Linked DNA regions of Homo sapiens: region 2 is linked to region 1. The links come from fine-mapping of genetic effects on gene expression. A gene starts in region 1. The other region holds a variant in brackets. All regions are shown on one strand. Distances are between the middles of the regions.

Region 1 (16,981 bases):
CTTGGTCAAGTACATCTATACAGCAACGCACTGCATAATGATATTTCAGTCAATGATGGACTGAATATATGACAGTGGTCCCATAAATTCATAATACTGCATTTTTACAGCACCTTTTCTTTCTTCCTTCCTTTGTTCCTTCCTCCCTTCCTCCCTCCCTCCCTCCTGCTCTCCGTCCCTTTCTTCCTTCCTTCTCCCTTCCTTCCTTCCTTCCATCCTCCCTGTCTCACTCCCTGTCTCACTCCCTGCCTCCTTCCCGCTCTCCCTTCCTCCCTCCCCTTCTTCCTTCCTTCCTTCTTTCCTTCCCCCCCCCCTTTTTTTTTGAGACAGAGTTTCGCTCTTGTTGCCCAGACTGGAGTGCAATGGTGCAGTCTCGGCTCACTGCAACCTCCACATCCCAGGTTCAAGCGATTCTCCTGTCTCAGCCTCCCAAGTAACTGGGATTACAGGTACCTGCCACCACACCCAGCTAATTTTTGTATTTTTTGTGGAGATGGGGTTTCACCATGTTGGCCAGGCTGGTCGTGAACTCCTGACCACAGGTGGTCCACCCATCTCAGCCTCCCAAAGTGCTAGGATTACAGGCTGAGCCACCATGCCCAGCCTTTTATGGCACCTTTTCTATGTTTGGATATGTTTGGATACACAAATACTTAGCATTGTTTTACAATTGCCTATAATATTCAGTATAGTAACATCTTACACAGGTTTGTAGCTGAGGAGCAATGGATTATACCACATAGCCTAAGTGTATAGTAGGCTATACCATGTATGTTTGTTTAAGTATACTTTATGGTGTTTGCACAAGGATGAAATCACCTAAAGACACATTTCTCAGAATGTATTTCTGTTGTTAAGCAATGCATGACTGTATATTTATACTGATGGTGTCATGTATTCTGTCTTACTGTTCCCTGCAGTCATTCTAATTGCAACCCTTGAACAAAAACACACAGTGTGGGCTATAGGGGAAACACTTGGCCTGGAAATCCAGGGCCTGGGTAGTTGTGGCCTTAATGTCTTTTGGTCTCAGTTTCCTCATCTGTTCAGCAGGGCTGAATAAACCTCTTTTGATGATCTTATGTGATTGTCATGACCTTAATTGAGATAATGCATGTAAGGACACTTTGAAGTGCTAACAGTGTAAAAGCATATTAATCACATCCATGTACCAAAAATAGTCCTAACTAGTCAACTAAATTTGAGTCTCCTCTGTTGAGAATAGTACTGACATTGTGGAAGGAATAAATTAGAAAAAGGAAACCATTCCTGGTCTGAAGCAGAAATATTCTATTTCACATAGGCAGCTAGTGTTGTGGAGAGAGCTGGGTATTGAGTTAAAAGAGTTACACCGAAGCTGTGGGCAAGTTATCATACCTCCACGAATCCCATTTCACCGTCTGTAAAACCTAGAAGACAGGACCTGCTTTTCAACTCATGGGTGTGGTCATGATTAAATGAAATAAAGTATGTGAAAGTAATGAATAAACAGAAAAACATTATTCTAATATAGGCAATAATTAGTAGTTGGTGATAAAATATGAGCACATAAAATGGACTGAAATATTTACAAAGTCTAATATTATACACAGTAAACATTTGAAGACCTAGAAGAGTAGTTTTTAATTAAATAAGAGGCAGCTGTTTGGAAGAGGAAAACTTTGAGTCAGTCTTATTTCTGATCATAAGTCTGAGAATGGGTCTATTTTGCTTATTAAAAGAAACATGTTCTTTGTTTTTTATTTCTGATGCACATCTTCATTGTGAGAGGAATTGGTCATTTCACATGTTTCTAGATTATTTACTTCAATATATTACATTATATGAAGCTATATTTAGAAGGGCTGAAAAAATAACTTGTGATGATTTTGTCACTAATATCTCAGGAGCTGGAAGAAATTTTTGAGATGATATCGCACATATCAGAAAACAGAAGAGCAGAGAGATTGAGTGACTTGTCCAAATTCTCAGAGCTACGAAGTTACAGGGCCAGAATTCACAATTGGGGTTTTTGACTTCACTGTTCTTTTTGCCGCACCACACTAGTACTGGGGCAACTTCTGGGTGGAGATATTGAATTAACTCACTGAATGTTTAGACAATCAGATTGGGCTGGGAACTGTACTAACCTAGGAGGAGGAAAGGAGAAGTGTTAAGAAGGTCACTGCGAATTAGGAAGTGCGTTTCGGCGGCAATCTCAGCTGCAGCATATAAAAAAAATTCGATATTGTAGCCTCTTCCCACAGTGGCACACCCTGGTAACCTCTCCCTACCCTACCCTTTAAGCGTTTCTTTTTAAGGTCCGATACTCCTTTATATTCTTAAACTTTCGCCTGCCCTTGCAGTTCTGGGACGCCAGCAGAACTTCTTTTCATCCCTTATCAGCACGCGAGGGGAGGACAGCTCCTCCAGGAACATGAGAACTTTCCAAAGCAAACCCCCAATCAGAGAGAGAAAGAACGTGGCCACTGTAACCAAGTTTCTGCTGGAGGCCAAGAAATCACACCTCCGGCTTCCAATTCCTCCAACATCTGAGAGCGTGAACTTCCCTCTTTTCCCACAGCCCCAAGGGAACTATCCTGGGCCCTCACTATTAAGAACTTCAGGGCCAGAACACAGCCATTCTTGCAGGTGTCTGCCCGTGGGCTGCCTCTGGAATTCCATTTCTCTCCCCTCCATCAGACTCCTGTTTCCCTCTCCCCTCTTTCCTTCTCGGTTCGGGAGGGGCAGAGGCAACCGCGCGCTTCGGGGCTCATCGCCCGCGTGGAATTCGGGCTCGCTATCCTCGAGGAGGCTGTGGAGGAGGACGGCTCCTGGGCCGGGTCGCAAGGGACAGTGCCGTCCTCCCGCAGGTGGCCAGAGTTCTGGTTGGCCTGTGAAGACGGGTGTCTTTCTTGGGCCCAGCGCGTCCTGGCCTTTTGAGAGGGGGCTTCGAAGGCCCAGAGGAAGGCAGGCCGGAGGCAGACTCCATCAGACTCTGCCTGGCTTTCTCCTTCCCGGCCCCAGATGGCCGCGGTCTCTCCGCGCCCCCCAGCAGCTCCCCGCCGCCGCCACCGTTGTCTTTCCAGTAGAGGCTGCTGGATGACGGCGCGGTAGCCGGTTGGATGGGGGCTGGCGGCTCAGACGGGACACCGGGGGTGGGGGCGTGGGGGAGGGAGGGTGTGGAGAAGGGGGAGGTCAGCGCTGGGCGGGCGCTCAGGGGACCCAGCGCTGCCCCCTCCAGCAGCAGGAGCAGCACAGCAGCCGCCGCCGCCGCAGCAGCCACCGCGTCCACAGCAGCGCAAGAGGGGGGCCAGCGGCGCGGCCGAGAGCAGAGGGGCGGCGGCGCCCGCCCCAGCCGAGCCGAGCCGAGCTGAGCGCGCAGCCCGGCCGCCGCTGCTGCTCGCAGATGCCATCACAGCAACAAAGAGCTCGCTGAGCTGAGAGCCGCGGCGAGGGCTCGCCTGGGAGCTGCGCGGCAGCCGGAGGAAGCGCGTGGGGGGTCCGGGGGAGGGAAGGGGACAGAAGATGGCCAAGAAGAGAAAGCCCCCCAGCATCAAGGGTGAGTCCCGCTCCCTCCTCCCCTCGCCGCCTCCCCTCTCTCACCCGCCCTCTGCCCCTCGGGCCGGCCTGTTTACATCCAGGCGCGGCCAAGTGGAAGGCTCCTGCCGGGGAAGAGTTTGCCGTGTCCGGGGAGGGGGTGGGGGAAACCGCGGCGCCGCTGCACCTCCCCTGGCCTCCGGGGACACTGACAGGAGTTTGTGCCCCTTTTGCAACCTGGGGAAACCTGGAGACTCCTCTCTCACCCCACCCCTTTGCTACTCGGCGAGCTTGGGTATCTATCTGTTGCACCTCCTAGCCTCTGGGCAGTGGGGAGAGAAGCGACTGGGCTCCTAGCATCTTGTCTTTTCCGGAATCTCTCTCTCTCTCCCTCTCGTGTGTGTGTGTGTGTGTGTGTGTGTGTGTGTGTGTGTGTGTATGTATGTGTGTGTGTGTGTAAGAGAGAGAGAGAGTTTTTCATGGTCTCTTCTATTCTTTTCTTCCAATCCCCCCTCCCTCCGCCCCTTCGTCCCTAGGGTGACAAGTTCTGCATCCATTTCCCCAACCTCCATCCTCAGGAGGAGATTGGAGCTGGCTGCCTCTCCTTTTCCCTGCGGTCAAGGGGACTTGCTACCGGCCGAGTCCCTGCAGGCTACTTCCTGCTCCCCAACCTGTCGAGACGGGCAGTGGCTCCGGCTAAGCAGTCTCCCTGTTGCTCCTTTGGAACCCGGGCTTCCAAAGTTGGAAAGTTCGCGGAGAGAAGCGATGGCGGGGAGGACAAGGAAGAGCTTGTTGCTGGGGTGACGAGGCATTGCGGCGTGGTCCGGGGCGCGACTCGGGAGGGAGCCTCCTGGGCTGCGTCTTGCCTAGGGGTCGCAGAGCCGGCGCGCGGGGAGCAGGTGCAAGCCACCCGCTCCCGCAGCGCGGACTCGCAGAGGTCGCAGCTTGTCGGCTCCCTAGCTCTCGCTGGGGGACTCGCAGAGCCCTAGAGGTTGTCTGCAGCACTGCAGAGAGGTGGAAGTGGGCTCGACACCATGCGCGGTGAGGAAGGCTGTGCGCGGGGGAACTGGACCTGAGGATGGTGGCAAGGAAGGGGCGTCGTTCGAAGTTGGATTTCAACACAATGGGCCCAATGACCTGGGAGGCAGCGACTTACTGAGCCTTTGGGGTTATATAAAAAAGGACAGGAACTCAGATGAGAACTGAGGGGTGAAGGGTATTACTGAATACATTGGCTTGGACTACAGCAGCGCTCAGGCTTTGGCGTGCTTTTTGCTTTTCCTCCCAAGTCTGGCTTGTGGGAGCTTAGCTCCGCTCTAGAGGTCACTAGGGGGACACAACTTTATCTTGGCGCGTCAGCTTGCTTTTTAATTGCTCCGGAGTACTCAAAGCACTTACTGGAAAGCGTTTAAAATCATGATCCTTAATTCTTAAGAAGACATTACTATGAAAACACCTGGGACTTTTTGTTGTTAAAAATTATAACCTATGTATGACAATTTTATTGCAATGCCTTTTCTTAAAATATTATAGCTCCTGTAAAATTAGAGGGGCTTTAAACCTCTGATTCCCCCCCTCCATAAATTAGCGCATGGGTATAGAGATACACGAGTAAAGAAAGAAGAGAGAATATATTCACCTACAAACAGATTCCTCTCTTTATCATAATATCAAATAATTAGTCTAAGCCCAGATTGACAAGGCGTATGAGCTACACTTTTGGTTCGCTCCTTTTTTATGGAGCCATATGGCACGATGAGTGAAACAGAAGGATTGGTTTTCAGCACTGCTGATGTGGCTATCCATTGGCAGAAATACATTTCATTCCCACCCCAAACCTTGCAGATTGTAAATGGTCCATGAAGAGTGGAAAAAATTTTACAGTTTTACAGTACATGGTAGCCAGAGAAAATCTTACCCTTGAAATTAATAATCTTGGCAGAAGCACAAAAAGATACAATTAGATTGATGAAATGAGCTCATATAAGAGATTTGATGAAAAAGACACCTCCCCTTTATTCTTCCGTCCCCTCAAAACACCAAAAAGTTTTTGTTTTGTAGGTCAGTATGGAATCATTTGTATTTTCTTGAATAAGTTTAATTTGATAGTGAAATAATTGAAGAATAGCAGTTAAGTGTTAACAGTTTCTCTGGAAGGATTAATAATCAAGCTTTCTTACGACATGTGGTCTCAATAAATTTTATGTAGTACTTTAAAAATAAGGTTTTCTCATGCTACATGTTTTTCTTAAAGGAAAAGTTATGTTACTTAGCTCCTATCAACTTGTGTTGAGTTGTTCTTGTTTTTTAAAACAAGTTCATTTAGTATTTCACAGAAAGAAGGACACCTTTAAAAACAAATCCTTGGAGTTTCACTTTAGCGAAGCAGGATGAATTGTGATATTTGATAGATGACAGAAGCAAACCCAGAAAGTTGTAATCTATTGACTTGCCTCAATTTTGCCTTTTAAGAGGAGAGCTCTACAAAAGCATCTGACTGCAGGCTTGCTGAACTGCTCTCAGATGTCTGCTTCTAAGCTACAACCAACTAAACTGGGACTGCCTGGTAGGAAAAATTTCTAGGCTTTATTGGCAGGGGCAGGCTACTGGGGTGAACTTTGCTGGATAAAACACTGTAGATTTAGCAATATTCCATGCTGTGTTGGTTATTCTCTTACAAGAGCTGCTTCTCTGCTTAGCTACACCGCATGCAGGGAGAGATCATTCGTCGGATCTTGTGACAGGCAAGTTGCTCATTGGCTTCTGAAGTCCTAGCAAGAGAGACTATCCATAAGCCTAGAAATTGGCCAAAGAGAAATGCAGTTTCTTAACATTGATAGAAGAATAAGATCTGTTGGCAGGATTTCTCAAGGGACATTAGCATTCATTTGTGACATCTCATCAAAAGGACAGTCTTTCAGAAAGGCCAATGGAATCTTTTACAATCCAATATTGATAATGTTTTTAACGAAAAAATGCTATAGTTCATAATCAATACAAGTCTTATAAATGCAAGCTGGTTACATTGGTTATAATCACGTCACCACCCCCACCCCTGCCTTTTCCAATATTAGTACAACAAAGACTTCTTGCTCAATTACTTAAGTGTAAAACTTATGTTTAGGTTAATTTATTCATTTATTCATTTAGCACATATTTATTGAGCACTGAATATGTACCAGATTCTGTGCAAAACACTAGGGATACGGTAATGAACATGATAGACAATGAAGTAAGAGGAGGCCTGGAAGAAGCAGGTGACAAATAATATGAACCAGAAAATTTCACATAGTGATTAATACCAGGAGAAATAAAACAAAGTGATGTGCGAGCAAATGATTTTGAGGTTACTTTAGATTGTCTGGAAAGGTGGCATTTGTGTCGGGAAACAAGTGATGAAGAGTAATTTGCATGCCAAGAACTGGAACATAACACTTCAGGCCTTAAGGTAGAAATGAGGTGGTAGCTTGGCACATTCACATACAAAAGGAAGAGGTGTAATGTGTAAGGAAGAGACAGTTAGGGAGAAGCCAGGCCTTTTTGGTCATAAAAAGGAATATAGAGTTTAAGTGCAATGAGAAGCCATTGGATATTCACTTGCTATTTGGGGATACATTCCTCTCCTGGAAGATTATTTCAGGGAGAGGAGCATTCCTACATCAACTCCCTAGGCCAACTAAGGTGACCTAATAGACTTCACTTTTCTAAAAGGTCCAGTTATACTCACGTTATTTTCTCTTGCTATTCACCAGAATACCTATGCAATTTCAGGCTGAGATATTGATAGCATCTCTAGGAATCCCTGCTTAGAAAACAATTCTAGAGAGAATGAGGATTAATTTAACATTTAGTACAAGATGATAAGATTAGTCACTTCCCTGGCAAGCCTTTCAATGCAAGTAAGTCTTAGGAAAAACATATTGTAATGGTAGAGGGGGATTCTGAGGGGTCCAGAACATGACTGTGCAGTAGGCAGAATGTGGAAGGCAGCATGAGGGGCTCCTAGATAACAGAAAGGGGTCCACAGAAGGAGAAGAGTGATGTTTGGAAGGGGACATGAGAAAGCCTCTAAAACAACATCAGCCAATTCGTGATTTTGCCAAGTGGAAGCCTGATATGAGCATGTTCCAAGAGAAACATTCTCATTCAAACACAGAAAAAGTTTAAACCAGGGTACTTTTATGCTTTTGACTGATCTTTTTATAATGAAGCATTTGTAACAATAAAAGCACACAGATGTTTACAAAGTCTCTTTGATTTTACTTAATCACTGTCAGGTTGTTCTGATGGATTACAGACCTCACAAATGAAAATAGCATGAACATATTAATGATAACTGCTGTTTGTTGGAGGTAGTTGCTTGATAGCTAGTTAAGGAAATCATGCTCTTGGGTCTCATTTTACTGTAGAGATGTTGGTAAGTGGGATATGGGGTATATTGGATGATTTTCTTTCCCCTAAGCATTTGTGACAAGAAGGTGCTATGATATTCAGGAAAGACACAAATAATAGTAGATTATTTTAAAGGTAATCATGGCCTACTTCCACCTCCAAACTACCTACTTCTTTGCCAAGGATTAACAATGAAAAAATATACTATAGCTCCAGGACTTTGTTCAGTCTCCTCCCCCTCTTTATACTCCAAGTGACTCCTTTGAGGCTAGCAAGGCTAGTAGGACCTCAGGGATTACCTAAGAATGGGGTATGGCCCTTAGTGATACTGGAACACAATGTGTTTATGACATCAGCTTTTTTTTCACAGTAGTGAATCGTAGCATGTTAGAGTTAGAAGGTTCAGTGTTGATGGAGTTATTGAAGAAATGATGGAGTAAGAGGTGAGTGATACTGCTAAATGCAAGAAGTCTATGTCTGTAGGAAAATTGGTCAAGTTTGTTATTCATAAGTACGTATTCTATACAACTCAAGAAATACACACACACACACACATATATATAGTGAAGTCTGAATATAAATTAGGAACTGAGCACTTCCTCTCCGTGTGTGTGTGTGTATATATATAGATATCCTGGGGGATTATTTAAAGAGAGTAGTATTTTTACATCAGCTCCCTAGGCCAAGTAAGGTGACCCAATGGACTTCACTTTTCTAAAAAGTCCAGTTACACTTATGTATCTTCTCTTAATATTCACCAAAATATCGACAATATTTCGGGCTGAGATGTTGATAACATCTCTAGGAATCCTTACCTACTGGTATTCACACCTGTTCATACTCCCCTTCCAAAATGAATCACAGCTGACCATGTGATCAGTACTGTACAGCAGAAAACTACATCATAAAGACATACACTATGGCTTCTGCCTTGTTCTTTTGTATTCTTTGCTTTCTTATGTTGCTCATTTTGGGGAAACCAGATGCCATGTTTTAAAAATACTCAAGGATCCCTTGGATTATTTTTTGAAGCAGAGGTTCATACAGATATTATTAACATTTCAGCCCAAAATATTGTCGGTATTTTGATGAATAGTAAGAGAAGATACATAAGTATAACTGCACTTTTTAGAAAAGTGAAGTCCATTGGGTCACCTTACTTGGCCTAGGGAGCTGATGTAGAAATATTGCTCTCTCTAAATAATTCTCCAGGATATCTATGTGTATATAGGTATATGTATGTATATGTATATACCTATGGAGAGAGAAGAAGAGCTCAGTTCCTAATTTATATTCAGACTTCACTATGTGTGTGTGTGTGTGTGTGTGTGTGTGTGTGTGTGTGTATTTCTTGACTTGCATAGAAGTCTTGAATCTTAGCTCTGTGTGGGAAGAACTGAGGCCTCCTGCTAATAGCAACAACTTGCTAGTTATGTGAGTGATCTATCTTGGGAACAGACCCTGCAACCAAGTCAAGCCTTCAGATGACTGTAGCTTCAGCCAACATCTGACTGAATTTCATGATAGCCCCGACCCAGAGCTATCCAATCAAGCTGCTTCTGGATTCCTGAATCACAGAAACCATAAGATATAATAAATGCTTACTCTTGTCTTAAACCACTAAAATTTGGGGGTAATAGGTTACATAACATTAGATCATGAATATACCTGTGGTTCATTATTTTTGCACCTCTATCATGAAATGTAATATTTGTTACTAGTTCCAACACTGATCTTGAATCTTAGCCCTCTTTCCTATTTAGTGAATTGGGCTGAAACCCTGAAGTTCTCTTTTCTTGTTTCCCTTGAGTTTCTTGTAGCAGCTTGCTTTCTCCTCTGCTTTTTTGAGTACTGATTCCTGGCTCCTCTAGTTCATTTAGTTTAGAAGATACTTTCCAAATTGAAGCACTACCGAACCAAAAATCAGAGTGATAAAGAGAATACAAAAGCCCTAAAATCTCCCAACAGCACAAGATTTCACAGTCCTCCAAACTAAGAAGATAGAAAGTTTCTTAAAATCTACAATCTTTTATTCTCACCATCAAAAATAAGAATGTAAGGTAATGAATATGTTAAATAGCTTGATTTAGCCATTCCACAATGTGTATATATATCAAAACATCAGGTTTCACACCATAAATATATAAATTTTTACTTGCCAATTAAAAAAGAAAAAACCCAAAGAAATGAAACCCTAAAATATTCAAATAAAAACCTTTCCAGCTGTATTTATCTATTCCTCCTTACCAAAGAATCCCTTCCTCCTCCCAGCCCAGTTAGTCCTTTGAGGTATAAATAGGAGACTGAGAAAGAGGATTTAAGAAAGGAAGGTTGCCGTCTCTTCTACTTGAGAGTAGGATATTAATCTATTTTATTCGTTCATGTAGTTCTCTATTCATTCAATAAGTGTTAATCAATCGCTTACTATGTACTGGGCACTATTCTAAGCATGCTTGGGATAAATCAGGGAACAAAATGAATTCTTCATGAGGTTTACACTATACATAGGGAAGACAAACAATGAATAATAAGCATGAATACATTGTTGATATTAAAAATTGAAAAGTGCCATGACAGAAAGAAAAAAAAATGAGCATAGTAAGGGGGATTTGGATTGCTAATCATGGGATGATGGTGGGCCAGCTGCAAGTATTAATAGGGTGGTTAGGGTAGGACCAATTGACGAGGTAATATTGAAGGACATGAAGCAGTGGAAGGGGAGGAGACTTCCAGAAGGAAGGAAAAGCCAGAGCAAAGACCCTACAGTGAAAATATACCTGGTATGTTTGACTAACAGAAAGAAGACCAAGTGGAATTAGTAAGGGGGATAGAAATAGAAAATGAAGTCAGAAAGATGAGGGAAGACTAAATTATATTAAACTTTTTAGAAAGTTTTAAGACTTTGGTTTTTACTCTGGGGAAATGTGGCACCAGTTCAGATTTTGAACAGAGGAAAAATATGATCTGACTTACATTTTAAAATAATTGCTACGGCGACTGTGTTGAGAATATCGAGCCAATATGTAGGGGTAATGAGAAACTAGAAGACTAGTAAGGAATCTTTTGCAATAACTCTTTAAAAATTTTCTTCTTCTGGTGGCTGAATAATACTCCATTGTGTACACACACAACACACACACACACACACACATACCCCTCACATTTTGTTTATCCATTCATCTGTGGATAGACACGTAGGTTGATTCCATATCTTTTTCTCTGGAAAAATATATTTTCAGTTCCTTTGCCTATTTTTAAGTTGGGTTATTTGTTTTTTTTTGTTTTTTGTTTTGTTTTGTTTTGTTTTTGCTATTGACTTACAACAACATGGATAAACCTGGAGGACTTTATACTAAGTGAAATCAACCAGGCACAAAAAGAAAAATACTGTATGATCTCACTTATATGTGGAATCCAAAATTATTGAACTCATAGAAGCAGTGAGTAGAATGGTGGTTGCCAAAGGCTGGGGGAGTGGGAGAAGTGAGGAGATACTAGTCAAACAGTACAAACTTACAGTTATAAGACAAGTTCTGGGGACATAATATACAGCATAGATAGTGATGGATATTGTATTAGTTTGTTTTCATGCTGCTAATGAAGACATACCCAAGATTGGGTAACTTATAAAGGAAAGAGGTTTAATTGACTCACAGTTCCACATGGCTGGTGAGGCCTCACCATCATGGCAGAAGGTGAATGAGGAACAAAGTCACATCTTACATGGCAGCATGCAAGATAGCATGTACAGGGGAACTCCCCTTTATAAAACCATCAGATCTCATGAGACTTACTATCATGAAAACAGCATGGCAAAGACCCACCCCCATGATTCAATTACCTCCCACTGGGTCCCTCCCATGACATGTGGGAATTATGGGAGTTACAATTCAAGATGAGATTTGGGTGGGGACACAGCCCAAACTATGTCAGATGTGTTATTAAATTTGGTTGTAATAATTATTTATTATACAACGTGTACATATACCAAATCATCATGTTGTACACTTTGAATACATACAGTCTTTATTTGTCAATTAATATTTTAAAATAAAAAGTTGCTTATAAAAAATAATTCAGTTGAGAGATGATAGTGGCATCTATCAGGGTAGAAGCAGTGGTGAACATGAGAAATGGAAGGATACTGAATATATTTTTAAGGTAGAACTTATATAATTTTAAAAACTAACAGGATGTTTCATGTGAGAGAAAGAAAGGAGTGATGGATTAATGCACAGTTTTTGACCTAAACAACTAAGAGAAGGTGGACTTGGCATCAACTACTATTTGAAGATTGTAGAAGGGGCAAGTTTATGGGGAAGGATCAGAAGTTTAGTTTTGGACACATTTGGGTTTGAAATATTTATTTGATATACAAGTGAAGATGACAAGTAGGAAGCTGGATATGTAAGTCTGGAGTCTTGGAGAGAGGCTTGGGCTGATCATATGAATTTGGAATTCATCAGAACATTGGTGGTATTTAAGATCACAGACTGGAAGACTCACTGGGAATTGAGTATAGATTGAGAGAAATGATCTGAGCCCAGGGCTGCTCCATTATTAAGAGATAAGTGAGAAGGGGAGGAGTCAGTAAAGGAGATTGAGAAAGAGCAACTGGTGACTAAGAAGTGGGTGTGGGGTCTTGGAACCAAGGAAGAAAGTGTATCAAGGAGGAAAATGATAATCAACAGTGTCAAACGCTGCCCATAGGTCAGGTAAGATCAGGGTTGAGAAATGGCCATTGTATTTATTAATATGAAAGTCATTGAAGACCTTAATTAATTAATATGAAAGTCAAAGACAGCCCAGGTGAAGTGGTGGCAATGATGCTTTGAGTGAAGTGGGTTAAGAGAGAATGAAGAGGAGGAAAATTAAAGACAGCACAGTTAACTGTTTTGAAGGGTTTTGCTTTAAAGGGAGCAAAGAAATGATATGGCTGGGGATGGGAGTTGTGGAGTTGAAAAAAGATTTGCTTTTTTAAGATGGAAGAATAATAGTGGGTTTTATTCCTTGTTGTTTGTTACTATCTGTGTATTGAGGTGGGTTTTAACCTCTCTTTTACTATTTTAAATTTTGGGTGCTTTTTATGACAGTTTCCTATGGAGGTAAGATGAATTAATGTAGAATGGTCTTATGTTGCCTAGTTCTAAGGATGTTTCTCTTTTATCTTCTTTTACGTCTTTAAATGTATTATCTTTAAGAAATATTAAATGGAGTATTAAGAGAGGTATAGAAATGGATTTTCTGACAAAATAATAAAATATGCCATAGTAGGAAAAAGTTTCCAGAAGACAAGAGTTTGCCAGTCATCTTGTTGCTGACTGTGGCAGTCCATTCCCTCACTTGAAAGGATCTTAAAGAACTAAAGAAAAATTAAAAAAAAAAATTGTGCGGGAACTAGCCTAATGCTTCTCAACCAGGGGCAATTTTACAGTGTCTGGAGATATTTTGATTGTCATGACTGGAGTGGCGCTGGTGGCATCCAGTGGGTAGAGACCAGGGATGCTACTAACATTCTATAATGTACCTCCTCACAACAAAAGATTACCTAGTGCAAATTGTCAATGTTGCCAAGGCTGAGAAGCTATGGGCTAGCCCTATCATCTTTCCTTTCTTCCAGAGAGAAGCTAGGAAGCTGCTTCTGAAAAAGGGATCCGGAAGCAGGAGCTTTCCCTATCCCATTGTTCTGTGTTTAGATGAGACACAGCTTTTAAATAAATGATTAGGGTTCAAAATAAAGACATTTCTTTTTTGCCTTTGCTTTCTCTTTACCCCCTTCTGTGGATTCCCATAGTATAATCGAATTTTATAACTTTTGGTAGTTTCCCATTAGGGCCCATGACAGAGGAACATTAAAGTCATGGTGAAAAATTCCTCATTCAGTTGAGAAACCACAATTTCACATTGCTGATTTCTATTCTGCATCTGTCTGACAACTTAGTGAAGGAAAGGATGAAGAATAGGGTGATTTGTTAAGCTCTGACTCTACAAATCACTATAGCTTTTTAATATGAAAGGAGGGGTGGCCTCTCAGGCATCTTTTTTTGTAGCTTTTTTGGGCCATTAGGATTTTGGATGAGAGCTGCATTGTTTATTTATTTATTTTTATTTTTTCTCCACCTTCTCATTCTTAATAACTCTACCTTCAATATGTGCCTTATCTTTTAAGAAAGGCTCTGAAGAAACTCAGAACAGGTCCTAAGTGCTTGTTGAATGAAAATTTTCTTGTAGAATCAAAAATTTAAAACCCAATTTTAAAAGAAGCAATTTTAAATTCATAGTTTTTAAAAACTTAAAAGGCAGGTTTTTAAATGTAAATTTGCTAGTTCTCTGGATTGTCTTTCAGTGTTCAAAGTCAAAGACAAAAATCAGGCTTTCAAATTGACATTTTAGGAAGCATCCCCCTTGAGAACTGGAACAAGACAAGGATGCCCACTCTTCCCACTCCTGTTGAACACAGTACCGGAAGTGCAAGCCAGAGCAATCAGGCAAGAGAAAGAAAGAAAAGGCATCCAAATAGGAAAAGAAGAAGTCAAACTATCTCTCCTAGGAATCCCTAAAGACTGCCAAAGACTTTTGGAACTGAAAAATGACTTCAGTAAAGTGTCAGGATACAAAATCAATGTACAAAAATCAGTACCATATCTTTACACCAATAATGTTCAAGCTGAGAGCCAAATGAAGAACATAGCCTAATTTACAGTACACACACACATACACACACACCCCTTGGTTTCACCTCTAACCAAGGAAGTAAAAGGTCTCTACAAAGAAAACTACAAAACGCTGCTGAAATAAATCATAGATGACAGAAACAAATGGAAAAACATTCCATGATCATGGATTGGAAGAATAATAAAATGGTCAAACTCCCCAAAGCAATCTACAGATTCAATGCTATTTCTATGAAGCTACCAATGGCATTTTTCACAGAATCAGAAAAAACTATTCTAAAATTCATATGGAAGTAATAAAGTAATAAAGAGCCCAAATAGGCAAAGTAATCCCAAGAAAAAAGAACAAAGCCAGAAGCATCACATTACCTGGCTTCAAACTATATTGTAAGGCTACAGTAAGCAAAACAGCATGGTACTGGTACAAAAACAGACACATAGACCAATGGAACAGAAGAAAGAACCCAGAAATAAAGCTGCATTCCTATAGCCAGCTGACCTTCAACAAAGTAAACCAAAATCAGCAATGGGGAAAGGACTCTCTACTCAATAAATGGTGCTGGGATAACTGGCTATCCATATGCAGAAGAATGAAACTGGACCCCTACCTTGTTTGATATGGAAAAATTAACTCAAGATGGATCAGAGAATTAAATGTAAGACTTCAAACTATAAGAATCTTAGAAGAAAACATAGGAAACACCATTCTGGACATTGACTTTGGGAAAAATTTATGACTAAGTCCTCAAAAGCAATGACAACAAAAGCAAAAATTGCAAGTGAGACCTAATTAAACTGAGTAGCTTTTGCACAACAAAAGAAACTATCAACAGAGTAAACAGACAACCTACAGAGTGGGAGAAAATATTCACAAACTGTGCATCTGACAGAGGTCTAATATCTAGAATCTATAAGGAACTTAAACAATTGAACAAGTAAAACACCAATAACCCCATTAAAAATAGGCAAAAGAAAGACATGAATGGACAGTTCTCAAAAGAAGACATACAATTAAAAAAAAGAAGACATACAAGCAGCAAAAAAAAAAAAAAAAACATGAAAAAATGCTCCACATCACTAATTACCAGAGAAAGGCAAATCAAAAATCACGAGATACCATCTCATATAAGTCAGAATAACTATTATTAAAATTTAAAAATATTTGGGTGAGGCTGCAGAGAAATGGGAATGCTTATAAGCATATATACACTGTTGGGAATGTAAATTAGTTCAGTCACTGTGGAAAGCAGTTTGGAGGTCTCTCAGAGAGCTTAAAACAGAACTACCACTTGACCCAGCAATCCCACTACTGGGCATATATCCTCAAAAAACAAATTATTCTACCAGAAAGACACATGCACCCGCATGTTAATTGCAGCACTATTCACAATAGCAAAGACATGGAATCAACCTAGGTGCCCATCAACAGTGAATTGGATGAAAAAAAAAAAGGTACAAATACACTATGGAATACTATATAGCCAAAAAAAGAACAAAATCATTTCCTTTGCAGCAACATGGATGCAGTTAGAAGCCATTATCCTAAATGGATTAATGCAGTATCAGAAAATCAGATACCACATGTTCTCGCTTATAAGTGGGAGCTAAACAACAGGTACTAATAGACATAAAGATGGCAACAATTGATACTGGGACTGCTAGAGTGGAGAGGGAGGTTGGGGGAAAGGGTTGACAAATGAACTGTGGGGTACTATGCTCAGTACCTAGGTGACAGGATCAACTGTACTCCAAACCTTATCATTACACAATATAACCAGGTAACAATGTGTATATGTACCCCCTGAATCTAAAATAAATGTTGAAAAACTCTCAAACCCAAATTAAATATACATAAATAAATTTACATTTTATTAAAAATGTATTACTACTCTAGATTTGCCTTACAGGAAAGTCAAAACTTATTTTAAGCTTAGCCTATGATTATATACATTTGTACGTACAAGTTTAAAAATATCCAAAGTCATAAAATTTAACAAAAAAGGTAAAAGCTACTTACTGGGCATTTATGCTTCACAAACTAGTATTAACAGCACCTTTCACTTTGAAATACTTTTTTTCGAAGTGAAAAACACATTTTTCTTATTTATCTCAGCCTCTTATCACACTTTTGTTTGGTTGCACAAGAATGTCATCACATTCTTTACTCATGGCAATGACATTGATTCTGCTGATTTAACACCTTTGCTTTACTGAAAGAGTATTGGTGACTAAAGGAGGACCATTATTGCTCTTTAAAAAATGTTTAATCATAAATAGATGTGTCCAGGGATATCTTAACTGTATGAGGTATGATAGGCTTGAAATTATAAAGCACAGCTTTGGAATACACCCCTCCACAATCCTTAACCACTCAGAAAGTCTTACGTTAATACATA
Region 2 (16,981 bases), 140 kb after region 1:
ATGGCCTTCTTTGTCTCTTTTGATCTTTGTTGGTTTGAAGTCTGTTTTATCAGAGACTAGGATTGCAACCCCTGCCTTTTTTTGTTTTCCATTTGCTTGGTAGATCTTCCTCCATCCTTTTATTTTGAGCCTATGTGTGTCTCTGCATGTGAGATGGGTTTCCTGAATACAGCACACTGATGGGTCTTGACTCTTTATCCAATTTGCCAGTCTGTGTCTTTCCATTGGAGCATTTAGTCCATTTACATTTAAAGTTAATATTGTTATTGTGAATTTGATCCTGTCATTATGATGTTAGCTGGTTATTTTGCTCGTTAGTTCATGCAGTTTCTTCCTAGCCTCGATGGTCTTTACAATTTGGCATGATTTTGCAGTGGCTGGTACTGGTTGTTCCTTTCCATGTTTAGTGCTTCCTTCAGGAGCTCTTTTAGGGCAGGCCTGGTGGTGACAAAATCTCTCAGCATTTGCTTGTCTGTAAAGGATTTTATTTCTCCTTCACTTATGAAGCTTAGTTTGGCTGGATATGAAATTCTGGGTTGACAATTCTTTTCTTTAAGAATGTTGAATATTGGCCCATACTCTCTTCTGGCTTGTAGAGTTTCTGCCGGGAGATCCGCTGTTAGTCTGATGGGCTTCCCTTTGTGGGTAACCCGACCTTTCTCTCTGGCTGCCCTTAACATTTTTTCCTTCATTTCAACTTTGGTGAATCTGACAATTATGTGTCTTGGAGTTGCTGTTCTCGAGGAGTATCTTTGTGGCGTTCTCTGTATTTCCTGAATCTGAATGTTGGCCTGCCTTGCTAGATTGGGGAAGTTCTCCTGGATAATATCCTGCAGAGTGTTTTCCAACTTGGTTCCATTCTCCCCGTCACTTTCAGGTACACCAGTCAGACGTAGATTTGGTCTTTTCACATAGTCCCATATTTCTTGGAGGCTTTGTTCGTTTCTTTTTATTCTCTTTTCTCTAAACTTCCCTTCTCGTTTCATTTCATTCTTTTCATCTTCCATCACTGATACCCTTTCTTCCAGTTGATCACATCGGCTCCTGAGGCTTCTGCATTCTTCACGTAGTTCTCGAGCCTTGGTTTTCAGCTCCATCAGCTCCTTTAAGCACTTCTCTGTATTGGTTATTCTAGTTATGCATTCATCTAAATTTTTTTCAAAGGTTTTAACTTCTTTGCCTTTGGTTTGAATTTACTCCTGTAACTCGGAGTAGTTTGATCATCTGAAGCCTTCTCTCAACTCGTCAAAGTCATTCTCCGTACAGCTTTGTTCCGTTGCTGGTGAGGAACTGCGTTCCTTTGGAGGAGGAGAGGCGCTCTGCTTCTTAGAGTTTCCAGTTTTTCTGCTCTGTTTTTTCCCCCGTCTTTGTGGTTTTATCTACTTTTAGTCTTTGATGATGGTAATGTACAGATGGGTTTTTGGCGTGGATGTCCTTTCTGTTTGTTAGTTTTCCTTCTAACAGACAGGACCCTCAGCTGCAGGCCTGTTGGAGTTTGCTAGGGGTCCACTCCAGACCCTGTTTGCCTGGGTACCAGCAGCGGTGGCTGCAGAACAGCAGATTTTCATGAACCGCGAACGCTGCTGTCTGATCGTTTCTCTGGAAGTTTTGTCTCAGAGGAGTACCGGGTCCTGTGAGGTGTCAGTCTGCCCCTGCTGGGGGGTGCCTCCCAGTTAGGCTGCTCAGGGGTCAGGGGTCAGGGACCCACTTGAGGAGACAGTCTGCCCATTCTCAGATCTCCAGCTGTGTGCTGGGAGAAGCACTGCTCTCTTCAAAGCTGTCAGACAGGAACATTTAAGTCTGCAGAGGTTACTGCTGTCTTTTTGTTTGTCTGTGCCCTGCCCCCAGAGGTGGAGCCTACAGAGGCAGGCAGGCCTCCTTGAGCTGTGGTGGGCTCCACCCAGTTCGAGCTTCCCTGCTGCTTTGTCTACCTAAGCAAGCCTGGGTAATGGCGGGCGCCCCTCCCGCAGCCTTGCTGCCGCCTTGCAGTTTGATCTCAGACTGCTGTGCTAGCAATCAGCGAGACTCCGTGGGCGTAGGACCCTCCGAGCCAGGTGTGGGATATAATCTCCTGGTGCACTGTTTTTTAAGCCTGTCGGAAAAGCGCAGTATTCAGGTGGGAGTGACCTGATTTTCCAGGTGCCGTCTGTCACCCCTTTCTTTGACTAGGAAAGAGAACTCCCTGACCCCTTGCACTTCCCGAGTGAGGCAATGCCTCGCCCTGCTTCGGCTCGTGCACGGTGCGCTGCACCCACTGTCCTGCGCCCACTGTCTGGCACTCCCTAGTGAGATGAACCCGGTACCTCAGATAGAAATGCAGAAATCACCCATCTTCTGCGTCACTCACGCTGGGAGCTGTAGACCAGAGCTGTTCCTATGCTACCATCTTGGCTGCTCCCCAGTTAGTAGGTAGAATTCTAAATGCTCTACCTTGTTAATCTTGATAACTTTCTATATATATATATATACTTTTTTTTTTGATACAGAATCTCTTTCTGTCTCCCAGGCTGGAGTGCAGTGGCCTGATCTCAGCTCACTGCAACCTCTGCCTCCCGGGTTCAAGCGATTCTCATGCCTCAGCCTCCTGAGTAGTTGGGATTACAGGTGCGCACCACCATTCCCAGCTAATTTTTGTATTTTTAGTAGAGACAGAGCTTCACCATATTGGTCAGGCTGGTCTTTAACTCCTGACCTCATGATCCGCCCACCTCGGCTTCCCGAAGTGCTGGGATTACAGGCATGAACCACCACACCCAGCCACTGAGATATATGTTGTTTTTATCTCCATTTTACAGATGAAGAAATTGGCCCAGGGAGGTTAAATAAGTTCACCACCATCACATAATTAGTAAGTGGTAAAGCTGGGAGTAGGATCTATTTATTTAATCTCTTTAGCCCTCACTCTTAAACACATATACTATATTGCTTCTCTGATTAGAGCTGAGATATTCTGAGCCCTAATTCCTAATCCTGTAATGTTTCCATTATGGGTATTCTCTGAAAGGTTTGGAGATGGCTGAGGGTTATAAGTGAGACATATATATTAGAGTGGCAGTTAAAATAGTGGGAAATGGGAATGAAAGTAAGCTGGTGAAACTGGCAGAATGAAAAGAGGAGCAAGGAGATATTTTAGAAGGAATGTTGGTTTGGAATTCTGGCTGGACAAGTAATAATAAAATATCGGAAGAAAATAGATCTTTCTGAGTAATCAGAGAAATAATACTTGTTCAGAGGAGTTTAAACTCAATCGCTAATTGAGGGTTGGTTCTTCCCAAGAGGAGTAGCAAAACAAGAGGTAATATCAAAGCTCATCTACTGAAATTTCTATCAAATACCTTCCTCATCATTCCTTTCCTTCTTTCGAAATAAATTTTCTATCATGATTGTTATTTGTCTTTTACAAGGTTTCCTCAAATGATATTGGAAGGACATCTAGAAAGAGGACATAAAGGCCACTCTTCTTATTAGGCTTTTGCTGAGCTGTGAATATTTAAGAGATGAGGCGTAAGATCATCATTATTGATGTTATTTTTCCTTATGAGGGGTTCTTTCATAAATGCCACAGAGGGCAAGTGGTAAAGGACATGGAATTCAGGCTCCTCATTTCACTTCCTGCTGATGTGTGAATAACTCAGGGGCGACACACAACGATTTTACTTTATGCCATTTGGCATTTCATTCAGGCAGTTGAATTGTTGCTGCTCTCTTACCAGAGGTCTTAGTAGGGCCATTTTAGTAGACCTGTGCTTTGGAAGAATTCAGAATTACTTGAAAATTCCAGTTACTAACATATGCTTTTTGAAACAAATTATATGAAAAGAGCAGTTATATTGTTTATTATAAAGTTAGCCTAAGTAGAATTTTCTGGATTGTTTTTAAAGGAAGCCCACTCACATCATAATTAAATATGTATTGAAATAAGAGAAATTTGGGGTATAAAATTTTACTAATTATGACTCTGTCTTGTATTGTCATTTTGAAAATGTGTTTGAGCCACATAATTCTATGCCCCACAAAGAAAACTTCCAATTAACTTGGACTACTAATTGGCAATAACAAAACAAAACATCCTTGTGTAACATTACACGTAAATGTCTTACTATCAAGATTAGCTAATGACCTATATCTTAATTTTATGAATGACAATAACTCCACTATATTGATTATCAATCCAGAAAATGTTAAAGTCAGAGGAGAATATTGGCATTGAGGTGTGAATTTGAAAGCATTAGTATTATAAGATTGAAAGTAGTGTTCTCGTGAATGAATGTAAGTATATATAGAGATAATTATCCTGGGAACATGTTTAATTTAGCTTTAGTATGCAGTGTTAAATGACTTTATTTAATAATAAAACAGAATGAATCTAGTAAGTTTAGACTGGACAAATTTACTATCGACAGTAAGTGCCTAGGAATTGACAGAAGGTGCAGACTGTATGACAAAGAAATCTAAATATTCTTAGAAGTTCCTTCTTTTTTTATTTTTCAGATTGTTGCCATTCCCCATCTCCTGCCTTGAATCTTAGAATGAAATCTGTTATTGACAGTGAACTAATTTAATGAAGCAGTGTTAAATATTCAATGAAGCAGCAAATCTGCTCACATTTTTATTAACATATATTTTTGAAGAAACAAAGCAAGTCTACAGGCATAAAACAATGTTATGTCTATATGTCATGTATGTGCAGGTATTGAATCAGGACTAAAATATCTCTGATATTCTATGACACCACCACACTACAGAGCCACAGAGCTCATATTTAGAAGATTCATTATATTACTTAGTACTAAATATACTGCCACCAGCTAGGCTGGACAAATTTGCTATTGGACAAAGTTGGAAAAGGCCACAACAGAGGAAAAAATTATTTTCTTATTTATAAAGAAAGGGAATTTATAAAATTATGGAAAGAACATAAAAAATAAGGCTAGAGTCAAGAAAAAGCACTTGTAAAATAAGATGCTGATTATAGTGCTAGAATTAGAGAAGCTGATACAATAGGGAAAGTCATCTGTAAAAGTATTATCTCTTGAAATTAAACATAGAAATGTGAATAAGAAAACATCTATGTGTGAATGGATTTTGAGTGGGGCAGATAAGTGTTTTTAGCAAAGAACAGCGCAAATCAAGTACCCCCAAATTCTGCAAGAAACAAACAAAACCCCATCGCCTACCTCACCAAAAATTGTCTGACACAGTTGGGCTAAATCCATGTCATCAACTTAGAATTTGCTTTGGAAACCAGCAAGTGAAGTTGAGTCATATTTTCAGAGGCTTCCTCTTCCTCTTTGGAAAATCATCAACACATTTTCATCTTGTAAGCTATGTTTTTTTTCTTTTATAACCAGCATTGATTTTAAAAGCTTTATCCAATTCTTGGTTCTTGAATGTCCCTGAAGATATTTTTGAAGGATTATGCAAAGTGTTGCTCCCTCTGGAACTCCCATGTAGGCCCTGGAGATGTTGGGAAATGCTTGTGAGTAATTTTCATGCATAAAAAAGGACACTTAGCTGAATGCTAGATTGTAATTCAATCAGGAAGTTCCGATGACATTCTAAAACTGTACAGTCTGAATGCTTTATGAATAATACCACATTGCCAACACTGAATTACAGCTAGTATTTTTACACGAGGACTAGGAATACTAGCAACATAAAACAGTTTTATAGCCAGTTACCTTTGAGGTTGAGGGAGATGACAATTCATCACACAGAAGTCTTTAGTGCATCCCACAAAGATTATAATATGTGTAAGAGTGAAGGCTTGCCACTTGTTAGTCTATGAGAAGGATTTAAGTATAGAGGACACGGTGGTCTGCAAAACATTATAGGACTTGTGAAATGAGGACAGGGCTGCAATGCTTTTGAGGACACTCGGGTTGCCAGAAACACAAATCCTAGTCCTCATAAATACCACATTTGTGCTTTAATCATAAAAATTCTATTGAGACTAACCTTTCAGTGAGGGAATATTATCTAAAGAGAGCACAGTCATTTCAGCTGCTAAATGAAAAACTTGTATTTTATAAGCCTAGAAAAAAGTGAGTTGAATGTTATCATAAGATAACACATGGTCTTGAGGCACCCTGGGGCGCTGATATCTCACTTCACAGCGCAAGCTCAAAACACTCCTAGCTTGCTTAATAATTGTCAAAGTTATTTTAATTTGAACCATAACCAATTATTTATGTAAAAGAACTGTAAGAATGATAGTAGGAGAGCAAGAACATGAAAATTTATTTTTTTTCAGGCTTGTTGAGATTAATGAACCCTCAAAGATGTTATTAACTTTGCAGAATGGGTACCACATCTAAACAGCTATGCATTTCAAAATACCTTGGCTTTCTTCTCAAAAGAAAGAATTAAGTTGATACTCATGACTGAATCAGAAAGGTACTACTGACAGGTGCTCGGCACACTTTCCCCTGCATGACTCACCCTAAAGATACCTTATTTTTTCCATGAAGCCTTTTTATTCTCATATTTTTCTTTGGTCTTGTTTGAAAGCTCTATTCCCAGTGGCTTGAGAGAAGAAGAATAAACACCCAGGCCCCAGTAGTTTTTTTTTTTTTTTTAAACCCAGGGGGATATGCTCTGCCTATTGTCCTGAACACTAGCCAAAATCCTACTAAAATACAATATCTAGTATTGCCAAATCCTGCTTAGAGAGACATGAGAAACCTGAGAGTTCCTTCCATGGCTTGCCACAAAACAGATTATGGGTCTGGAAAATAAAAATAACCAGGAAGTGGCATTATAAATATAGATCAGAGAAAAAAAAGCCTTAGTGGTTCCTTGTTCATGGTCCTTAGGAATGTGCAGAAGTTTTGGACAGAGGATACAAACTAGCTTATTTGATCTTCTCTAGGCATAGGTAGAATAAGAGTAAATGCCCATAAGAAACTACACAAAGGGTTTAGAGACTGAGCTAAGAAAAAGCTGCCAGTCTGGAGTCAGTAGAAGAAAATTAAGAAATAGAGGGCAGTGGAATGCCAGAGAGAGGAAATACTTTGAACACATTAGCAAAGGAAAAATAGAAAAAAAATCATATTTGGAGAAGAGACATGAGCTCTGCCCGCATTCTCTTGAGATCTTTTGCTTGATTGAGGGCATGGGCTTTCCCCCTGCCATGATTGAGATAAAAGGCTATGATCAGGTAGAGGCAGTGCTTTGGAAGCTGCTTATGTCATTCCTCCCTCCTTTTCTTTTGTCCTGGTTCTGATTTAATTCATGGGTGTGTGTGTGTGTACGTGTGTGTGTGTGTGTGTGTGTGTGTTTTCATGCACACAAGCTTATGTATTAGATGGAGAGGGATTTGAAATTTTTCCTTGTTGAAAGGAAGGCTTCAAATGAAACAGCAATCCATCTCGCAGGAAAATTCCCATCCTGGGGATTCCCTTCAAGGCAGAAATTCAAGCAATGATGAGAAAGGTGCCCTTAGACTTGCCCAGTAATGAGATGTTACAAGCCATTAATTTTATGAAACTCCAAAGAAACACAGCCAGGCCGTAAAAAAAAGGTTAAAAAATAGATCTTCAACGAATCACTGAGAAAATACTAACTTTCCAAGTCCAGGGAATAAATTTGTCTGAGCCCTCTATTTTTCCCTCTCTGCATTATATTTGAAGATAGTTGTGTTTTGTTAGCTTTTTCATTTACCCCCAAAATACTTGCAAAATGCTTTAGTTTTAGAATTTTCATGTAATTGAGGAGTTAGAAACCCACCAAAGGTAGGGAGTCAAAGCAGAAACAGTTACTCAGATGCCTCTGGTAGCTATCCATTGTTCTAGAGAACAAGTCCATACTCGTAGCTTAAAAGGGATGGCAGGATGGCACTCTTATTTAACTCCTTACCCACATCTCTCCACCTGGACAGCCCCTCCCAACCCTCCCACCATACTTATCTCAGTTTTTCGACATGCCATGCCAGGTCACGCTTCTCTCTGGCCTTGGACATTCCATTTCCTCTGCTTCAAATTCCTTTCACTAGGCTAACACCTACTCATGGTGTAGGTTTAGCTTAGACTTCACTTTCTTCAGGAAGCTGACGCCAGTAACATTCCCTCCCCCTCACGTCTGGGTTATGGCCCCTCCTGCGTGCTTCCATTATACCTTCCCTATCTTGGTAGTCTTCACACTATATAATAATTTAGATGCCTATTTACTTGGCTGTAGTAGTCCTCACTAGACTATAAATTCTACCGTTATGTTACAGAAGAGCTCATACAACATAAACTACCTTTTGTGGAAGGATTATTTCAAACGTGGGGACCTAATTTTAGCTGTGGCAGTACGTGAGGAACATTTATAAGGTAGGGCACAACTGTACATTCACTTGGTTTCTCTTGAGTGCTCATTCTCTTCCATCTTTGAGTATGTTTTTTACTGCTGTTTTAAAGTATAGCCCTAGGGTTCTTGAAAACCAAAGCTTTTAGCTTCACGTGTAGACTTCATTCAATTTTTTTAAAAAGTATTGTCTTGAGGATTGATTGGTTTGAAAGCTTGGTTGTTATGAAAAGCTCTTATCTTTCCAGGGTTATTCCTTAGTTGCTCTTACAGAAACACCAAAACTGTAGGAATATCTTTAATATGCTGTCAAATAGAAAGGTTGGTGATAAATACTTGCCTCTAAAGAATGTTTTAGGAGCTTAGGAAATATGCAAGTCATCCGTGAAGCCCTCCTCCCTTTGAACTGCAATTTTTTATTATGGGAGTCAGGATACGTTGACTCTACTTTTTTTTTTTTTTTTTTTTTTTTCTTCACAAGGTCTCTCTCTGTCGCCCAGGCTGGAGTGCAGTGGTGTGATTATAGCTCACTGTAACCTCGAATTCCTGGGCTTAAATGATCCTCCCACCTCAGCTTCCTGAGTAGCTAGGACTACAGGCATACACCACCATGCCCAGATAATATTTACTTATCGTTCAGACAGCGTCTTGCTATGTCTCCCGTTGGTCTCAAGCAATCCTTCTGCCTCACCTCCCAGAAGGCTGGAATTACAGGCATAAGCCACTGTGCTCAGTCTGACTCTACTTTTTGTCTCAAAGCCAGGACACCTTATCCCAATGGCATAATATTTTTATTCCATTATACGCCGTACCATTTTAGTGATTTTTTCCCCTAAGTTCTACACACACTGGTTTCAGAATGATATTGCCAAAAGGAAAGAAGAAGAAATTCACTACACTTTTTTTTTTCTGGGAATGCTAGTAAAATCTGCATCTAAATTATATAAATGGTATTATTGTCTTCTTAAGTGGCACATGGTGTTACAGCTCACGCTTATTATGTCATCATTTACCTTTCATAAGTATTTTCAACATTCTTTTATCAATCAGTTAGTCTTCAACTGTGCTGTCCAAGATGGTAGCCTCTTTTCACATGAAGCTATTGAGCACCTGAAATGTGGCTAGTCTGAATTGAGATGAGCTGTAAATGTAAAATACAGACCAGCCTTCAAAGACTTGGTTAAAACAAAAAGGATTCAAAATATCTCATTTTTATCTCAAATAAATGAATTTATATTGATTACATGTTGAAATGATAATCTGAATATATTGGGTTGAGTAAAAGGCATTATTAAAATTAATTTCATCTGTTTCTTTTTACCTTTTTAATGCAGCTACTAAAAAATTAAAACTTGCATACCTGGCATGCAATATATATACATTTTTAATTTTTCATTTTAATTTTTGTGGGTACATAGCAGGTGTATATATTTATGAGGTACATGAGATATTTTGATGCAGGTATGCAATGTATAATAATCACATCATGTAAAATGGGTGTATCCATCCCCTCAAACATTTATCTCTTGGGTCACTAATAATCAAATTATGCTCTTCTTGTTATTTTTACATGTACAATTAAATTATCATTGACTATAGTCACCCTGTTGTGCTGTCAAATACTAAGTCTAATTCATTCTTTCTATTTTTTTTGTACCCATTAACCATCCCCACATCCCCCAAACCCCATTGCTGCCTTTCCCAGCCTGTGGTAACCATCCTTCTCCTCTCTATCAACATGAGTTCAATTATTTTGATTTTTAGTTTCCACAAATAAGTGAGAACATGGAATGTTTGTCTTTCTGTGCCTGGCTTATTTCACTTAGCATAATGACCTCCAATTTCATCCATGTTGTTGCATATGACAGGCTCTAGTTCTTTTCTATGGCTGAATAGTACTACATGGTGTATAATATGATGTTTTCTTTATTTACTCATTTGTTGATGAACACTTAGGTTGCTTCCAAATTTTGGCTATCGTGAAGAGCGCTACAACAAACATGGGAATGCAGATATCTCTTTGATACACTGATCTTTTTTCTTTTGGGTGTATACCCAGCAGTAGGATTCCTGGATCATATAGTATCTCTAGTTTTAATTTTTTGAGGAATCTCAAAACTGTTCTCCATAGTAGTTGCACTGATTTACATTCCCACCAACAGTGTATGAAAGTTCCCTTTTCTCCTCTCCTTTCCAGCATTTGTTTTTGCCTGTCTTTTGGACATAAGCCATTTTAACCGGGATGAGATGATATCTTATTGTAGTTTGACTTGCATTCCTCTGATAATCAATGGTGTTGAAAACCTTGTTATATGCCTTTTGTATGCCTTTTTTTTGAGAAATGTCTATTCAAATCTTTTGTTCATCTTTTGATTGGATTATTAGATTTTTTTCCTATAGAGTTGAGTTCCTTATGTATTCTGGTTATGAATCTCTTGTCGTATGG[T/GT]TGTTTGCAAATATTTTCTCCCATTTTGTGAGTTGTCTCTTCACTTTGTTGATTGTTTCTTTGTTGTGCAGAACTTTTTAACTTAATGTTATCTCATTTGTCCATTTTTGCTTTGATTGCCTGCACTTGTGGGGTATTACTCAAGAAATTCTTGCCCAGAACAATGTCCTGGAGAGTTTCCCTGAAGTTTTCTTTTAGTAATTTCATAGATTGAAGTCTTAGATTTACACCTTCAATCCATTTTGATTTAGTTTTTGTATATGGCGAGAGATAGGCATCTACTTTCGTTCTTCTGCATATAGATAACCTGTTTTCCCAGCATCATTTATCGAAGAGACTGTCTTTTCCTCAGTGTATGTTCTTGGCACCTTTATTGAAAATGAGTTCACTGTAGGTGTGTAGATTTATTTCTGTGTTCTCTATTCTGTTCCATTGGTCTATGTGTCTGTTTCTATGTCACTATCAAGCTGTTTTTGGTTTCTATAGCTCCATAGTATAATTTGCAATTAGGTAATTTGATTTCTTCAATTTTGTTCTTTTTGCTTGGGATAGCTTTGGTTATTCTGGGTCCTCTGTGGTTCCATATAAATTTTAGGATTGTTTTTTCTATTTCTGTGGAGAATATCATTGGTATTTTGATAGTGATTGAATTGAATCTGTAGCTTGCTTTGGGTAGTATGGACATTTTAACAACATTGATTCTTTCAGTATATGAACCTGGAATATTTATCTATTTCTTGGTGTCCTCTTAAATTTCTTTCATCAGTGTTTCATAGTTTTCATTATAGAGGTCTTTCAGTTCTTTAGTTCATTCCTAGGTATTTAGTTTAATTTGTGGCTATTGTACATGGGATTACTTTTTAAATTTCTTTTTTCAGATTGTTTATTATTGGCATATAGAAATGTTACCGATTTTCGTACGTTGATTTTGTATCTTGCAACTTTACTGAATTTGTTGATCAATTCTAATAGTTTTTTGTGCAGTGTAGGTTTTTCCAAATACAAAATCATATCATCTGCAAATAGGACAATTTGACTTCTTCCTTTCCAATTTGGATGCTCTTTATTTCTTTGTCTCATTGCTCTAACTAGGAATTTCAGTACTATGTTGAATAACAGTGGTGAAAGTGGGTATCCTTGGCATGTTCCAGATCTTAGAGGAAAGGCTTTCAGTTTTTCCCCATTCAGTATGATAATAGCTATGAATCTGTTATATATGGCTTTTATTCTATTGAGGTATGTTCCTTCTTTTTTTTTTTTTTTTTTTTTTTAAGATGGCATCTTGAACTGTCACCCAGGCTGGAGTGCAGTGGCACAATCTCGGCTCACTGCCACCTCCACCTTCCAGGTTCAAGCAATTCTCCTGCTTTGGCCCCCCAAGTAGCTGGGATTACAGGCACCTGCCACCACGCCCAGCTAACTTTTTGTATTTTTAGTAGAGACAGGGTTTCACTATGTTGGCCAGGCTGGTCTCAAACTCCTGACCTCGTGATCCGCCCACCTCGGCCTGCCAAAGTGCTGGGATTACAGGCATGAGCCACCACACCCGGCCAGTGTGTTCTTTCTATTTCTAGTTGTTTGAGGATTTTTATCATGAAGGATGTTGAAATTTATCAAATGCTTTTTCAGCATCAATTGAAATGATCATATGGGTTTTGTCCTTCATTCTGTTAATATGATATATCACATGGATTGGCTTACGTATGTTGAACCATCCTTGCATCTCAGGGATAAATCCCATTTGGTCATGACAAATGGCCTTTTAAATGTATTGTTGAATTTGGTTTGCTAGTATTTTGTTGAAGATATTTGTGTCAATATTCATCAGAGATATTGGCATGTAGTTTCCTTTTTTTGATGTCTCTTTTTCTGATTTGGATATAAGAGTAATACTGGCCTCGTAGAATGAGTTTGGAAGTATGCTCTCATCCTCTAATTTTGGAATAGTTTGAGGAAAATCGATATTAGCTTTTCTTTGAATGTTTGTAGAATTCAGCAGTGAAGCCATTGGGTGCTGGTCTTTTCTTTACTGGAAGACTTTATAACAGCTTCAATCTTGTTACTTGTTATTGGTCTATTCAGGTTTTGGATTTTTTCCTGGTTCAATCTTGGTAGTTTGCATGTGTCTAGGAGTTTGTCCATTTCTTCTAGATTTTTTAATTTATTGGCATATAGTTGCTCATAGTAGCCACTAAGGATCTTTTGAATTTCTTCAGTATCAGTTGTAATATCTCCTTTTTCATTTCTGATTTTATTTATTTGGGTCTTCTCTCTTTTTTTCTTAGTCTGGATAAAGGTTTGTCTATTTTGTTTATGTTTTTTAAAACCAACTTTTTGTTTTATTGATCTTTTGTATTGTTTTCTTCATCTCAATTTCCTTTATTTCTGCTCTGATTTTTATTATTTCTTTTCGTCTACTAATTTTGGTTTTGGTTTGCTCTTGCCTTTCTAGTTCTTTAAGATGCATTGTTAGGTTGTTTGAAGTTTTTCTTCTTTTTTTGGGTAGGTATGTATGAGTACTGCTTTTGCTATATCCCATAGGTTTTGGCATGTTGTTTCCATTATCATTCGTTTCAAGAAATTTTCAGTGTTCTTAATTTCTTCATTGGCCCAATTTCCTTCTTAATGTCTTCATTGACCCATATCCAGGAGCATATTGTTTAATTTCCATGCATTTGTATAGTTTCCAAGATTCTTCTTGTTGTTGATTTCTAGTTTTATTCCATTGTGTACAGAGAAGATGACTGATATTATTTCATTTAAAAATATTTTAAGACTAGTTTTGTGACCTAACATAAGGTCTGTCATTGAGAATGATCCATGTGCTGATGAACAAAAAATGTGTATTCTGTAGCTCTTGGATAAAATGTTCTGTAAATATCTATTAGATCCATTTGGTCTATAGTGCAGATGAAGTATGATGTTTCTTTGTTGATTTTCTGTCTAGAATATCTGTCCAAGGCTGAAAGTGAGGTGTTAAAGTTTCCAGCTATTATTGTATATTGTACTGGGGCCTCTCTCTTTCTTTAGCTGTAATAATATTTGCTTTATGTATCTGGGTGCTCCAGTGTTGGGTGCATATATATTTAAAATTGTTATATTCTCTAGCTGAATTGACTCCTTTATCATTATACAGAGACCTTTGTCTCTTCATATAGTTTTTGTCTTGAAATCTATTTTGTCTGATACAAGCATAGTGACTCCTGCTGTCTTTTGGTTTCCAATAGCATGGGATATCTTTTCCCATCCCTTTATTTTCAGTTTATGTGTGTATTTTTTGTAGGCAACAGGTTATTACTTCTTTTTTTTCCCATCCATTCAGTCAGTATATTTTGACTGAAGAGTTTAGTCCATTTACATTCAACGTTATTATTAATAAATAAGGACTTCTGTCATTTTGTTCTATGTTTTCTGCTTGTTTTGTGGTCTTTTCTTCCCTTTCCTTCCTTTTAATGAAGGCGATTTTCTCTGGTGATGTGATTTAATTTCTTGCTTATTTTTTGTGTATCCATTGTATGTTTTCTGGTTTGAGGTTACCATGAGGCTTGCAAATACTATCTTATAACTCATATTTTAAGCTGATACCAACACTGTTTCATAAACAAACAAGCAAAAAGAAAACAAATAAAGACTCTATGCCTTAGCTTTGTCCTCCTGCTTTTTACCTTTTTCTTCTTTCTTGCTTTTTTTTTTTTTTTTTTTTTTGAGACAGAGTCTCACTCTGTCGCCCAGGCTGGAGTGCAGTGGTGCAATCTCGGTTCACTGCAACCTCCACCTTCCAGGTTCAAGTGATTCTCCTGCCTCAGCCTCCCGAGTAGCTAGGACTACAGGTGCATGCCACCATGCCCAGCTAATTTTTTGTGCTTTTAGTAGAGATGGGATTTCACCATGTTAGCCAGGATGATCTTGATTTCCTGACCTCATAAACCTCCTGCCTTGGCCTCTCAAAGTGCTGGGATTACAGGCATGAGCCACTGCGCCCGGCCTCTTGTTTCTATTTATATCTTATTGTGCTATGTCTCAAAAAGTTGTTATTGTTTTTGTTTGGTTCATTGTTTAGGCTTTCTACTTAGGATAACAGTAGTTTACACACCACAGTTACAGTGTTGTAATATTCTGTGTTTTTCTGTGTACTTACTATTACCAGTGAGTTTTGTAACTTCAGATGATTTCTTATTACTAATTAACATTCCTTTCTTTCTAAGTGAAGTACTCCCTTTAACATTTCTTGCAGGATGAGTCTAGTATTGATGAAATCCCTCAGCTTTTGTTTGTCTGGGGAAGTCTTTATTTCTCCTTTATGTTTGAAGGATATTTTCACCAGATATATACTATTCTAGGGTAAAAATTTTTTCCTTTATTGCTTTAAATATATCATGCACTCTTTCCTGGCCTGTAAGATTTCCACTGAAAAATCTGCTGCCCGACATATTGGAGCTCCATTGTACGTTATTTGTTTCTTTTCTGTTGTTGCTTTTAGGATCTTTTTTTTTTTTTTTTTTTTTTTGAGACAGAGTCCCGCTCTTTAGCCCAGGCTGGAGTGCAGTGGCACAATCTCGGCTCACTGCAAGCTCCGCCTCCCAGGTTCACGCCATTCTCCTGCCTCAGCCTCCCGAGTAGCTGGGACTACAGGCGCCTGCCACCGCGCCCAGCTAATTTTTGTATTTTTAGTAGAGACGGGGTTTCACCGTGTTAGCCAAGATGGTCTCGATCTCCTGACCTTGTGATCCGCCTGCCTCGGCCTTCCAAAGTACTGGGATTACAGGCGTGAGCCACCGTGCCCAGCCAGGATCTTTTTTTATTAATCCTTGATCTTTGGGAATTTGATTGTTAAATGCCTTGAGACAGACTTCTTTGGGTTAAATCTGCTTGATGTTCTATAACCTTCTTGTCCTTGAATATTGATATCTTTCTCCAGGTTTGGGAAGTTCTCTGTCATTTTCCCTTTGAATAAACTTTCTACTCCTATTCCTTTCTCTACCTTCTCTTTAAAGCCAATAACTATTAGATTTGCCCTCTTGAAGCTATTTTCTAGATATCGCAGGTGTGCTTCATTTTTTTAAAAAAATTCTGTTTTCTTTTGTCTCTTCTATGTATTTTCAAATAGCCTGTCTTCAAGCTCACTAATTCATTCTTCTGCTTGATCATTTCTGTTATTAAAAGACTGTGATGCATCCTTCAGTATGTCAATTGCACTTTTCAGCTCCAGAATTTCTGCTTGATTCTTTTTAATTATTTCAATCTCTTTGTTAAATTTTTTCTGATAGCATTTTGAATTCCTTCTCTGCGTTATCTTGAATTTCATTGCATTTCCTCAAAACAGCTTTTGAATTCTTTGTCTGAAAGGTCGCATATCTGTTTCTCCAGGACTGGTCCCTGATGCGTTATTTAGTTCATTTGGTGATGTTGTGTTTTCATGGATTGTCTTCATTCTTGCAGATGTTCATCTGTGTCTGGGCATTGAAGAGTTAAGTATTTATTCTAGTCTTCTCAGTGTGGGCTTTCTTGTACCAGTCTTTCTTGGGAGGGCTTTCCAGGTATTCTAAAAGACGTAAGTGTTGTGATCTAAGCTGTATTTGTTTTAGGGGGTACCCAAAGTCCAGTAACACTGTGGTTCTTGCAGACGTGTAGAGGTGCCACCTTGATGTTCTTGGACAAGCACTGGGAGAATTCTTTGGATTACCAGGCAGACTCTTGTTCTCTTCCCTTACTTTCTCCCAAACAAACAGAGTTTATATCTTTGTTCTGAGTCAACTGGAGATGGGGGTGGAGTGACATAAGCACCCTTTGGCTACTACCGCTAGGAATGTCCTGGGTCAGACCTGAAGCCAGCACAGCACTGGGTCTTGCCCAAGGCCTGCTTAACTACTCCCTGGCTATGGCCTATGTTTGCTCAGTGCCATAGGGCTCTACAGTCAGCAGGTGGCAAAGTCAGCCAGGCCTGCGTCCTTCCCTGCAGGATTGTGATTTTCTCCAGGACCCAGGAGGGTCCATAGGTGTTGTTTGGGAGCCAGGAACTAGAGTCAAAAACCTTAAAAGGCCATCTGATGTTCTATTGTACTTTCCATTTTTCCCTCCCCTTTCCAAAGGCAGAGGAGTCTTATCCCATACCCACCACCACTCCAGGCCATGAGGAGTACTGGCAGATTACTACCAATGTTCCCCCTAAGGCCCAAGGGCTTTTTAGTCAGCTTATTGTGAATGCTGCCTGGCCTTGGACTCACTCTTTAGGGTAGTAGGCACTCC

Alleles and levels. Positions count from the first base shown, and alleles are read on the strand shown. Sizes are in standard deviations (SD) of each study's normalised expression.
For the expression in T cells of the gene that starts at base 8,280 in region 1, GT is the low allele of the variant in region 2 and T is the other (large effect, 1.1 SD a copy in GENCORD).

Evidence for each region.
Region 2: its variant is fine-mapped to the expression of SLC44A5 in T cells (GENCORD, PIP 0.95).

What each region holds. Positions count from the first base shown.
Region 1 is chr1:75,602,413-75,619,393 of GRCh38, reverse strand. It overlaps SLC44A5 (solute carrier family 44 member 5), which reads left to right and starts at 8,280. Exons shown (of 24, transcript NM_001130058.2): 1 at 8,280-8,354. RefSeq lists a silencer at 3,232-3,451.
Region 2 is chr1:75,461,681-75,478,661 of GRCh38, reverse strand. All of the region lies in intron 2 of SLC44A5 (solute carrier family 44 member 5), which reads left to right. Among named protein-coding and RNA genes, the nearest start is that of SLC44A5, 140 kb to the left of the region's middle. RefSeq lists an enhancer at 1,552-2,052. The variant T/GT (reference allele first, on the strand shown) is at 10,736.